Linked DNA regions of Homo sapiens. The protein of the gene in region 1 interacts with the protein of each later gene in a biochemical or structural test. Each region holds a gene or a part of one and is shown on either strand. Other genes may lie near its edges.

Region 1 (3,756 bases):
GCCTCCAAAATCCTATTATGCATACTAGACTTTATCATCAGTACTTATATTCTTCAAAATGTACCTAATACAGTCACATGCTCATTAAAAGAGTTGATACAGTTTTGATGGCAGGCTACAGTTCCCTGCTGTCTTTCCATGATGCATCAGCAGAACCATTCAAAGCCACACACACCAAACCTATTAAGAAAAAAGCATTCATAATTCCCAGCTGTGTCCTCTACATTTTCCAAACAATATTAATTTCACATGTATTTATCAATATTATATATTTAGTGGGAATTAACATTAAAATCAACATATTGTTCTTAAGTAATCCAGACTAATAAACCATGAGTCAAACAAATCTACTCTGCGAAAACCTCAAATCACTCTGTGTGATAAATTATTTTAATAACATAAAGCTATAAATTTTCTCTATTTTTATATCCAAGACTAAATACCATTGACTATCCTTCAAAATGTTTATGTTCCAAAATCCTGTAGTTACACATAAACCCACAACAAAAGACATTACTTTAGAATGGTAGAAAAAAATATTTTTAAAAATTGTCAATTCTTAAAATTGGTTAAGTAATTAAAACCATTAAATCATAACACTGACCTAACAGGACAAGAAGTTTCTTTTGGTAATCTTTATTAGTATATGATCATCCTCAAGGGTCTCACTTGCTAGCCTTTTAAACAAATTTCTAAGGCAAATTTACAGTTCATTTAAAAGGTAATAAATACCACACACTCCTACAACCTTAGCCACTTTACAAAACAAAGGAAAAATTTCTTCCAAATGTTATTATAATTAAGAGCTTTTCTATATTAATTCCTCTTACAGTCTCCCAGTGTGTCTTAGATTGCCAAGTACATCTTGATTGTGACATGCAAAATGGATTCTGCTTTAGAAATGGGTTAATTGGCATGCAGATTTCTGCAGAGATCCATAATCCCACAAACAAGAGGGGAAATGAACATTATAGGGCTGACTCTGACAACATGTACTTGGCAGGGGAAGGCGGCAGGGGGTTGGCAACTTCACAATGGTGGATTTGGGGGAAGGAAACAGGACAAGAGACTGAGGTACCCAGACCCTCATCCTGCCAACAGCATTCACGTAGTTACTAGCTTCCATGTATAATAAGACACATTTTCAAAATGGAAAGGAGGTTATCAGAGAGACGGATTCAGATCATCAGTTACCATTAGACTACAGTTTCATTCAATTTAATCTTTAACCATTAAAAATTTTTAAAGACTATATTTCAAGGTAATAGTTCATTTCAAATTTAACAAATTACAAATGCACTAATTTGTATGTATGTGTATGTTCTCTATGTGTCATCTTAAAGCATTTTAAACATTTTTGATAATTAAAATGCAACAGCCATGTTGAAATTAATGTTTACATAAACTGTCAGTGACTTTATTGGCCAAGAAAAGGTAGCTCAAAGCTTTAACTTTATATGAGCTTGATAAAAGCCTTTCAGGGCATGTTTGAGAAATGTGCTCTACTATAAAAGTAACTATTTTAATATACAGCCAAGGTCAATTATTAATATTTTTCTTTTTTTTTTTTTTTTTGAGATGGAGTCTTGCTCTGTTGCCCAGGCTGGAGCAGTGGTGCGCTCTCGGCACTGCAACCTCTGTCTGCCAGTTTCAAGTAGTTCTCCTGCCCAGCCTCCCGAGTAGCTGGGACTACAAGTACCCACCACCACACCTGGCTAATTTTTTGTATTTTTAGTAGAGACAGGGTTTCATCATGTTGGCCAGGCTGGTCTCAAGCTCCTGACCTCAAGTGATCTGCCCGTCTCAGCCTCCCAAAGTGCTGGGATTAGCGGCATGAGCCACCACATGGCCAATACTTTATAAGCAAAGTTTAAACAACTAATTTAATATTTGATAAGGTTTTGGTTTGCCTATATATACTGGGGTAAAGTATGACACAAATTATTAAGCTTGACAAAATAAAAGTAGACTTTACCTGACCACCTTTCTATATTCTTCAGTGAATTCATCAAACAGCATTTTCAACAAAGCTTTGGATCCAGTACTTTGAAGTGAAACAGTGACCTAAAGCCTCACGTCACTTTGGTGAAAGCGGAACATAAATGACTTTTCAACTTCAGAGTTCATATTTGTTAGAGTAGAGAATACGAGGAATGAATAAAGTTATCCTTGTTAGTATTAAAAGCCCTAATTGGAAGAGAAAAGTCTCCAATTAGTTGACCCTATTTATTAACCAAAAGCTTCACAGAAAAACAACTAAAAAAGATATTATGCTTTAAAAAATGGGATATATATTTGGATAATTTGCAACCTATAATCCTAAAAGAACTGCCAGAATGCAAAGATCTTTTTAATATTATTATTTCTGGTGAAATCAAACTCAAAATATAATACCTAGGACTCCTTGTCCAAAGAAGAAATTAAACTAGATAATTTCTTTTCTGAAATAGTCTGCAAATTATAATTCACAAGAAGTACACAAAATAGGGTAAATAAAAGTGTGTATACATGAAAAGCTACAATAATTCCAATTTTTGCTTCCCTGGCAAGGTACTGTACATATACATCAACATAATAGAAATGGCACAGTCTCTGAGGACACGTTTCACATTTTATTTACATTTTAAGACTAACTTTAATCTCAAAATCACATATCCATACACCTATTTCCTTTTTGTTGACTTCACTTAAACTTAAATGCATGGTTTGTTAAACAAAGACTGTAAACAAATATTTACCATGTCTGTTACATGTAACACACAAGAACAGCTTTTAACAGGAATTCATCAACTCCCCCCAACATTTTTTATTATAAATACAGGTATCAAAACAATCCTGAACATATTTTTGATACTACTAGTAGTCAGCACCCACATTGCTTCAAAAATTAACACATCTGTGACAATATTCATTGTACCTGCTACTTTTTAAACAATTTCAACTGCAGCTCTCTTTCACTAAGTAAGATGGGTAAAGCATGCCATTTCTGTTTTCTTGAGATTTTTACTTTTTAGAAACACACATGCTTCCACTGCCATCTGACACTTCTCCACACGCTTTCATCTTGTAAACCTGAATTCTATTTCGAGTACTCCAGGTTTATGTTTAAATGACAGTGCCTTTCAAGAGAAAAAAAATTGTGCTGCATTTTTCCTCCTGTTACCTGAAAACATAATGGGTGTACATATATTAAATATATTCTTACAAATGTCCAGGTCATGTTTACCAGCTGGAATTCTTTTACTTAATGTGTATTTTGCATTGTGATATTTAATCAAGACATTAACATGAGTAGAAGGTTGTTGATTTAAGACAAGTTTGAGATCCACTAAAATTAATTGTTGTATGTTTGTCCTTCTGGTGGCTGTGGAAGCTTCATATTTTCTTTGGACATCATTAGACGTCTTAGCTCTTGAAGTACAACTTTAATGCTATATGAATTTTGCCATTTTGCTAACACTGGTATGCTCCGGGCATCCACCTGAAAGGGGAGGAAAGAGTACAGTTAACTAGCAAGTTTAAAGTACTATGGCACCAATTTGTTAAGCATATTTTAATAAGAATGATTTTGAAAATTCATAGCTTGCCTCTATTTTCACAAAACATACACTATGGAATTACTAATACCATAATTAGTATATTTTATCATAATTAGTTTAATATTTTGGGAAAATATAAAGACATAAAACATACAGTGAACTTTGGTCATCAGAAATAAATGTTATATTAAATAACTACTTTGTCAATAAATTTACC
Region 2 (3,756 bases), on another chromosome or scaffold:
ACTCTTCCCGAGGTAGGAGGGTATAGTAGGGCTTGCAAAAGCAGGGGACATATGTTCTCGAAAAGCATCGTATGTTGAACATTTGCTTGGCACTTAAGTCAACACTTTCTGTTCACTCTGTGGGTAATGATTTATATTAGTGGTTAGTTAACTTCAAGTGGGCAGAGAGAATGGGGTGTTTGTGACCCAGAAGGTTTATTTTTGAAGTAATGTTGGCCAACTAGGAAGAGAATTTGTGATCACTTACTGAACTTTCTTCTAGTTGGCAGAGAAACTCCTTTACAAAAGTACTGTTGACTCCTCAAATGTTTTGTCACTAATAAAGTCTCCATATTACTACTAAATATTTTTAAGAGCTATTTAAAAATGTTATACAAATCTCATATATATAAATCTTAGAACCAAATAATTAGAACTTTGTTAAAGAACAAGTAGCTTAGTAAATAGATTGCTAAATGAAACAAACTTCAAGTCCTTGTCCCAAAATACATAATTGTGTTTAAAAATATAAATTTTAGAGTTACAGAAACAAAGTCCACTAAGGCAAATATAGTATATAGCTCATATTTTCTAGTAATGAAATCTGAAATCAGCCCTTACATTAAATCTTGCTGAAATGAAGTCAGTAGTTAAAGGTATAATTATAATTAATTACCTCTAGGACCCACCAGTCTCACAGCTTTAGCATTATGTTATCTTTCAGTAGGGTCAAGTTTGCAGAATTAGCCTTTCAGATTTGAGTAGAAAATTTAAAAAAAAAATGTTTTTTTTGTAGACAAATGACTTGGAATATATTGACTTAACTATCAGTAACTTCTTTCTGAGATTTCCTACTCATTACTATTTTAATTCCAAGTTATTTTCATATTATTATAAATTCAATGGGTTAATTTTATATTTAAATATACCTTTAAAAGTTAATTTCAGAGGTTCCACACATAACATTTAGGTAATTTAAGATAATATGCACAATTTTTTAAGTGATAGCTAGCTGTAAACTCAGAAATAAAACTGTGTATGTATCTACAGCTATTTGGCCCTTTCTCTTGCAATTTTTTTAGAACTGTTTTGCATTTCCATAAAGAAGGAAAGTTAATTTCAATAAGCAATTCAGAATACTGAAAGCAAAACACTGTGTAACTACTGACTGTTGTTTGTATCAGGGAAAAGTGGTGAATTATTTTATTCCGTCACATTATTTTGGAGGAAAACTGAAAAAGACAGAAATCCAGAATATCGAATTTGAACCAAAAGAAAAAGTTCAATGCCCTCGTAAGTAAGACATCTCTTAAAGGAAATACCTTCTTATAGTGATCTTTGCTAGAGTTCTTGCAATCCTTAGAGATATCTTGTAATTGTTATAAACAATTGTTTTTACAGTTATATATGCTTTTGATAAATGAATTCAATTACAAGTCATAATATCTTAACAAAAGTAAAGATGTATTATTTTGTTTGACTTGGCCCAGGTAGTTCTTGCTCAGTCTGTTATATTTAAATCTCTTTAGCTTACAGTTTAAACCAGGCTTTATTTATCTTTTAGGAAATGAATGTTTCGCATACTAATGGTAGCGTATACTTAAATAATTGTGAGAGTTTTCTTTTATAATTTTGAATGATTGTTTTATAGTATTAACAATTCAATATGAGTAATTCTTCCTTTGATTATTTTTATTACAGTAATTTGTTTCTTAATATGCTGAGATACATTTTTATTACATATTTTTTCAAAATGGCACTCTGCTGTAATAAATCTTTGATTTATTTCTTTCTTAACTCAGTCCTCATGCAGATTAAGATTAACCAAGTTTTACTTTCTTTTCATTTTAATTATTTTGACTGATTTAGCATATCCTTTTACATTTAGCTACACGTGTGATGATACTGACAGCTGTGAAAGAAATGAATGGAAAAAAAGGAGTGTCCATCCTTTCCATCTATAAGTATGTCAGTTCTATATATAGATACGATGTTCAACGGAACAGGAGTCTTTTGAAACGGATGCTGAAATGTTTAATTTTTGAAGGTCTCGTGAAACAGATCAAAGGCCATGGTTTTTCTGGGACTTTTACATTGGGAAAGAATTACAAGGAAGAGGATATATGTGATAAAACAAAAAAGCAGGTAACAGAGCTTAAGTTCAGCTCTATATTAAGTACACGTATGTGATACCTTACTGAGTACATTGACAGATCCCACCTTGAAACTGAAACTCTTACGATCTGAAGATAAAAAAATAGGAAAAGTACTTATATCTGTAACTTCTACTTTCTACTTTGTGGATATAAACTCCGTGAGAGTAACTTTACTTTGGCTATCATTAAACCTAGAGAATAATGCTTGGCACGTAACAAATACTCAGATATTTATTGAGTGAATTAAAAAACTAGTTGGCTAAGCGTATTATAGAGTATAAAGCATCTTCTGTATTATTTATTTTTATTATTTTTTTAAGACACAGGGCATCTATTGCCCTGGCTAGAATGCAGTGGTCATAGCTAGCTGCAGCCTTGAACTCCTGTGCCAAGCTGTCATCTTGCCTTAGCTTCCCAAGTAGTTGTGAGTACAGGCTCATGTCACCATGCCTGGTTAATTTTTCTTGTTTTTTTGTAGAGACGGGGTTCTCACTATGTTGCCCAGGCAGGTCTGGAACTTCTAAATTCTCATTTTCTTTATATTATTATCTTATACAATTTCTGCATTTTGTTAGAAAACTGCTTCTGTTGGGCCAGTAATTTCAATTTGCTTTTAGGAAAATAGTTATAATATTTGCAATCATAAATAAAGATTAATGACAACAAGTCAAAATGTGGAGCTACCAGCTCGGCCACCAAGAAAAAGACAAAAAATTTATTTTCTGGAGTAGGGAGTCTATATTATCCTTGGGTAGCACTGAAGACAGCAGTGAACTGTGCTTTTGGTAATCCTGCTACCACCAAAACTAGAAGATTTCCCTCAGTTAATGCCATTGATTACATGTTGTGTCTTAACTCCCCTGTTCGACCTCAGCCCTGATATGCCTTGGAGGAAGCTGTCCCTATTAACTACCTGCCTATCATACTCCCACTATGTTGTACAACCCTCTTAGGTATTCCCATAGCATCATTTTACTTTTTACTGTTCTCACTTTTCCAGTAGACCCCTTTGAAACCGGGGGCCAAATATTGTTCATATTTGTGTCCCTAGCATCTAACACAACTACTGGCACAGAATTGGCATTTAATAAGTAATTGTAAGAGAGGACATATGTAGAAAAGGGAAGGAAAGAAGGAATCAATTTGCTAATTGCAGTAACCAGTGGATTATCTTTTACTTTCTTTGGATGCTATATTTTAGTACTTGGTGTTTTTGTAGTTGCCCTGATTTGTATATTTATGTACTCGAAAAGTACTAGTCTTGTATTGATTTAGGTAGACTAAATCATAGTAGGTAAATAACAAAATATCAGTAGCTTCCTTTATCTTTCTAATTTTTCATCTCTCCAAATCTGACACTTGTAGAGCCTTCCTTTTGTTTTGAGATGAAGTGAGGGTCCTTACAGAGGGCAGATTGGAAGCCACTTATCAGGAGTGATTCTCCTCAGGGAAAAGGGTAGCAAAGACTGGCTGCTACATAATTATATGAAGTACTTACATAAAGTCAGGAGTTTAATTTCAGAAATGCAACTAGTTGCAATCAATTAATTAAATATTTTTTTCATAGGCAGTAGGGAGTCCAAGGAAAATTCAGAAAGAAACTAGAAAATCAGGGAACAAG
Region 3 (3,756 bases), on another chromosome or scaffold:
CTTTATAATTACACCTTTAATTCTTTTTCACATTAGACAAGTAATTCTTGTGCTGAAACAACTAATATTCCATTGTTTCCTGTTGTGAGTTATGTGACATAACCCTGAATTGGCACTTCAGATATTCCTTCTGAAGATTATTCGAAACTGGTTCAAATGTTATGTCCATTTATTCATTAGTTAACAGAATGCCCAGAAAAAGAAAATATTTTTTCATCAATTTATTGCTGTCTTAAAATTCTGCTACCAAAATCAAACAATTTTAAAAAGCATTAAAAAAAAACCAAAAGCTTTGTCTACTTAAACTTTCTCAGAAAAGGTAGAATACAATTCCACCTAGAAGTGAAAAATTACCAATTCACTTGTCAGCTTGAGGGTGCAACTCTCAGGCTTAAACTATTTGAGTTCATACAATGAGGCAGAATATTAAAATTTCACTATTACTTCTACAATTTGCATCAAAATCTAAGACATTCTTATTCTTATGAGCCTAGGATGAAAACATTTGTTTTTAATATTTTAAGTTATAATATCTTCTAAGAATAAGGAGAGAAGAGTACAAAGTGTAGGTTTGATCCCAGCTCTTACTGACAGCACAACCTTTTTTATTTTTTATTTTTATCTTTGAGACGGAGTCTTGCTCTGTTGCCCAGGCTGGAGTGCAGTGGCGCCATCTCAGCTCACTGCAAGCTCCACTTCCCGGGTTCAGGCCATTCTCCCTGCCTCAGAGAGCTCCCAAGTAGCTGGGACTACAGGCGCCTGCCACCACGCCCGGCTAATTTTTTGTATTTTTAGTAGAGATGGGGCTTCACCATGTTAGCCAGGATGGTCTCGATCTCCTGACCTTGTGATCCGCCCGCCTCAGCCTCCCAAAGTGCTGGGATTATAGACATGAGCCACCGCGCCCAGCCCCCTGACAGCACAATCTTATGTTATTTAACCTCTTTGAATTTCAGCTTGGAAACAGCAACTACATTGCAGGTGGCTGTGAGGATAAGAAATAATACATGTAAAACATTGAATGTAGTGAATGGCTCATAATAATTTATTAAATAGAAGTTATAAGTATAAAGGATTATATCTTAACTTCTTTTTATTTTATATTTTTGGAGACAAGAGTCACTCTGTCGCCCAGGCTGGAGTGCAGTGGCGCGATCTCGGCTCACTGTAGCCTCCATCTCCCGGGTTCAAGCGATTCTCCTGACTCAGCCGTCTCAGTAGTTGGGATTACAGGCATCCACCACAATGCCTGGCTCATTTTTGTATTTTTTTTTTTTTAGTAGAGATGGGGTTTCACCATGTTGGCCAAGCTGGTCTCGAACTTCTGGCCTCAAGTGATCCACTCACCTCAACCTCCCAAAGTGCTGGGATTACAGGCGTGAGCCACTGTGCCTGGCCAGGTTTATATCTTAACTTCTAAAGTACACTGAAAAGTATCTTGAAAATTCAAATTTCGGCCAGGCACGATGGCTCACGCCTGTAATCCCAGCACTTTGGGAGGCCGAGGTGGGCAGATCACCTGAGGTCAGGAGTTTGAGACCAGCCTGGCCAACATGGTAAAACCCTCTCTACAAAAAATACAAAAATTAGCAGGGCGTGGTGGCACTTGCCTGTAATCCCAGTTACTTGGGAGGCTGAGGCAGGAGAATCACCTGAACTCAGGAGGCAGAGGTTGCAGTGAGCTGAGATAGCGTCACTGCACTCCAGCCTGGGTGACAGAGTGAGACTTTGTCTAAAAAAAAAAGAAAGAAAATTCAAATTCCATAAATTTACATATAGAAATTCAATACAGAAAAAAAATGACAATTTCCCACAGTAGAAAAGAATGAGACAAAACGTTTGGAATCAATTATCTACATTTGGTCAAAAATATTCTGCAATAAAGTATACTCACACCCAAGATACCCTCTAAACTCTTGGTGTGCTATGAAATGTTTACCAAGTACACTAAAAACTGGGTTCCTCCCAAAAGAATAGAGATGATAGAAACTTATGAGTCACATACGGAGTCCAATTAACAAAACAGCTGGTTAAGATGTTCAGGATGAAACTGAGTTAGAGACAACAGCAGTCAGAAATGTAATAAATGTACTTACCTGAGGGGTCTCATGGCCTTTTCTACTATAATTTTGTATGAAGTCCACAAGGCCATGAACTACTGTTTTAACAGCTACCATTGCATTTTCCAGCTGCTCCCAAGTTGGTGAAACAGCGTCTAAAATAAGCCACCAAGGGCATGGGGGTTGGGGGGGAAGAATGTTAGCAGTAATTCTCTTGTGTTATTCACCTCAAAAGTAGAAAAAAATATAAGCAACTGAGCATATTCCCACATACCTGGATTAGGGTCTATGTTTGCAAGAAGCTCTAAATGAGGCCTCAGTCTATTTAAGTTAGCTGGGTCACCTGTTCGTTGCAAAACAATTGTCAATTCCTGGACACTCTTTGCAAATGACTCTGGAGACTGTAGCTAACAAACAGAAATGAGAATGCTTTTTACTTTGGTTCTTATGACACATTTATACTCAAATACTTTCAATTTATCAACATATTTAATACGTTTTCAAGTGTCTTCAGATTCCACAGTAGGAGTATCAGTGATGAATTAAATTTTCACCTCAGAATCTGCCCTATGAAATTCATCATTAGACACTTAGAAAACTTATAAGCTGTATTAACTCTCTGAGGTCAGAATATAGATAAATTTGAGACTTTGTAAGCCTCACTGCTTTTATGCTAGTATCATGTATTTGTTTCCCTGTTGCATCCCTTTATTTTGCAAGTAGAAAAATAAAAAGAAAATAAGGATAATTTATAAGAGTCTGACATTTAAAAACATAGGAATCTCCAACTGTTTGTGTATAGACTCTTTAGAATATTCTAATACTCTTCAATGTAACAGCAATGATAGAACATCAGCATCTCTAATTTCACAAACCTTATCAATGATAGACTGCATGTGTGATTTATGAGCCAAATCACCATACAAAAGAGAGGACCACTGTTCAGGTGAAATACGGAGTCCTGCTTCCATGGCAATATGAACAATTTGGGCATCATGTTCTCTGCGTAATGCTTCATAACTCCGAAATTCCTCCTTCAGCTGCATTAGGGAAGAGTCTTCATCTCTTTTGGTAACCTAAAAAATAGAAAAGAGAAAAATCAGAATTGGTCTGTGCTTTCTCCCTTCAACTGATTCGTTTATTCCTTTTTCAGGGAGGGTGGGGGATACTTACATATCAGACACCACAGAAATAAGGTACAAAGATAAGATAATGTCCTGACCACAAATTCTTTCTGGAACAAAACAGAACTTACATAACTAAATACATAATCCTTGCCTTCAATGATTTCAGCCACTAGTAAGAAAGAGAAACTTGTAAGTAGAAAATTATAGTAAAAGTTATAAGGCTTGATGGCAACAAAGAGGAAAGGGAATTAAATTAGGGAGAAGAAAGGGATTTCAGAAAAGGCTTCTCCCAGCTGAAAGCTACATGAATTGATTTGTGCACAATAAACAGGAGTTTCCTGAGCAAAGAAAGGTGAGGAGGCCAGGGATGGTGGCTCATGCCTGTAATCCCAGCACTTTGAGAGGCCGAGGTGGGCAGATCACTTGAAGTCAGGAGTTTGAGACCAGCCTGGCCAACATGACGAAACCCCATCTCAAGAAAAAATACAAAAACTAGTCAGGCATGGTGGTGGCAGGCGCCTGTACTCCCACCTACTCGGGAGGCAGAGGTTGCAGTGAGCTGAGATAGC

What was found.
Region 2: the proteins of UBE2V2 (region 1) and SHPRH form a complex in vitro, tested with the Homo sapiens proteins (one study listed by BioGRID).
Region 3: the proteins of UBE2V2 (region 1) and RC3H2 form a complex in vitro, tested with the Homo sapiens proteins (one study listed by BioGRID).

What each region holds. Positions count from the first base shown.
Region 1 is NC_000008.11:48,060,407-48,064,162, reverse strand, and holds part of UBE2V2 (ubiquitin-conjugating enzyme E2 variant 2), read right to left. Parts: intron 3,482-3,756; coding exon 3,335-3,481; 3' UTR 1-3,334. UniProt on the Homo sapiens protein: Has no ubiquitin ligase activity on its own. The UBE2V2/UBE2N heterodimer catalyzes the synthesis of non-canonical poly-ubiquitin chains that are linked through 'Lys-63'. This type of poly-ubiquitination does not lead to protein degradation by the proteasome.
Region 2 is NC_000006.12:145,943,749-145,947,504, reverse strand, and holds part of SHPRH (E3 ubiquitin-protein ligase SHPRH), read left to right. Parts: coding exon 1-12; intron 13-1,163; coding exon 1,164-1,272; intron 1,273-1,867; coding exon 1,868-2,124; intron 2,125-3,702; coding exon 3,703-3,756. UniProt on the Homo sapiens protein: E3 ubiquitin-protein ligase involved in DNA repair.
Region 3 is NC_000009.12:122,877,659-122,881,414, forward strand, and holds part of RC3H2 (roquin-2), read right to left. Parts: intron 3,137-3,756; coding exon 2,936-3,136; intron 2,662-2,935; exon of another isoform or gene 2,555-2,661; intron 2,468-2,554; coding exon 2,335-2,467; intron 2,216-2,334; coding exon 2,097-2,215; intron 1-2,096. UniProt on the Homo sapiens protein: Post-transcriptional repressor of mRNAs containing a conserved stem loop motif, called constitutive decay element (CDE), which is often located in the 3'-UTR, as in HMGXB3, ICOS, IER3, NFKBID, NFKBIZ, PPP1R10, TNF and in many more mRNAs.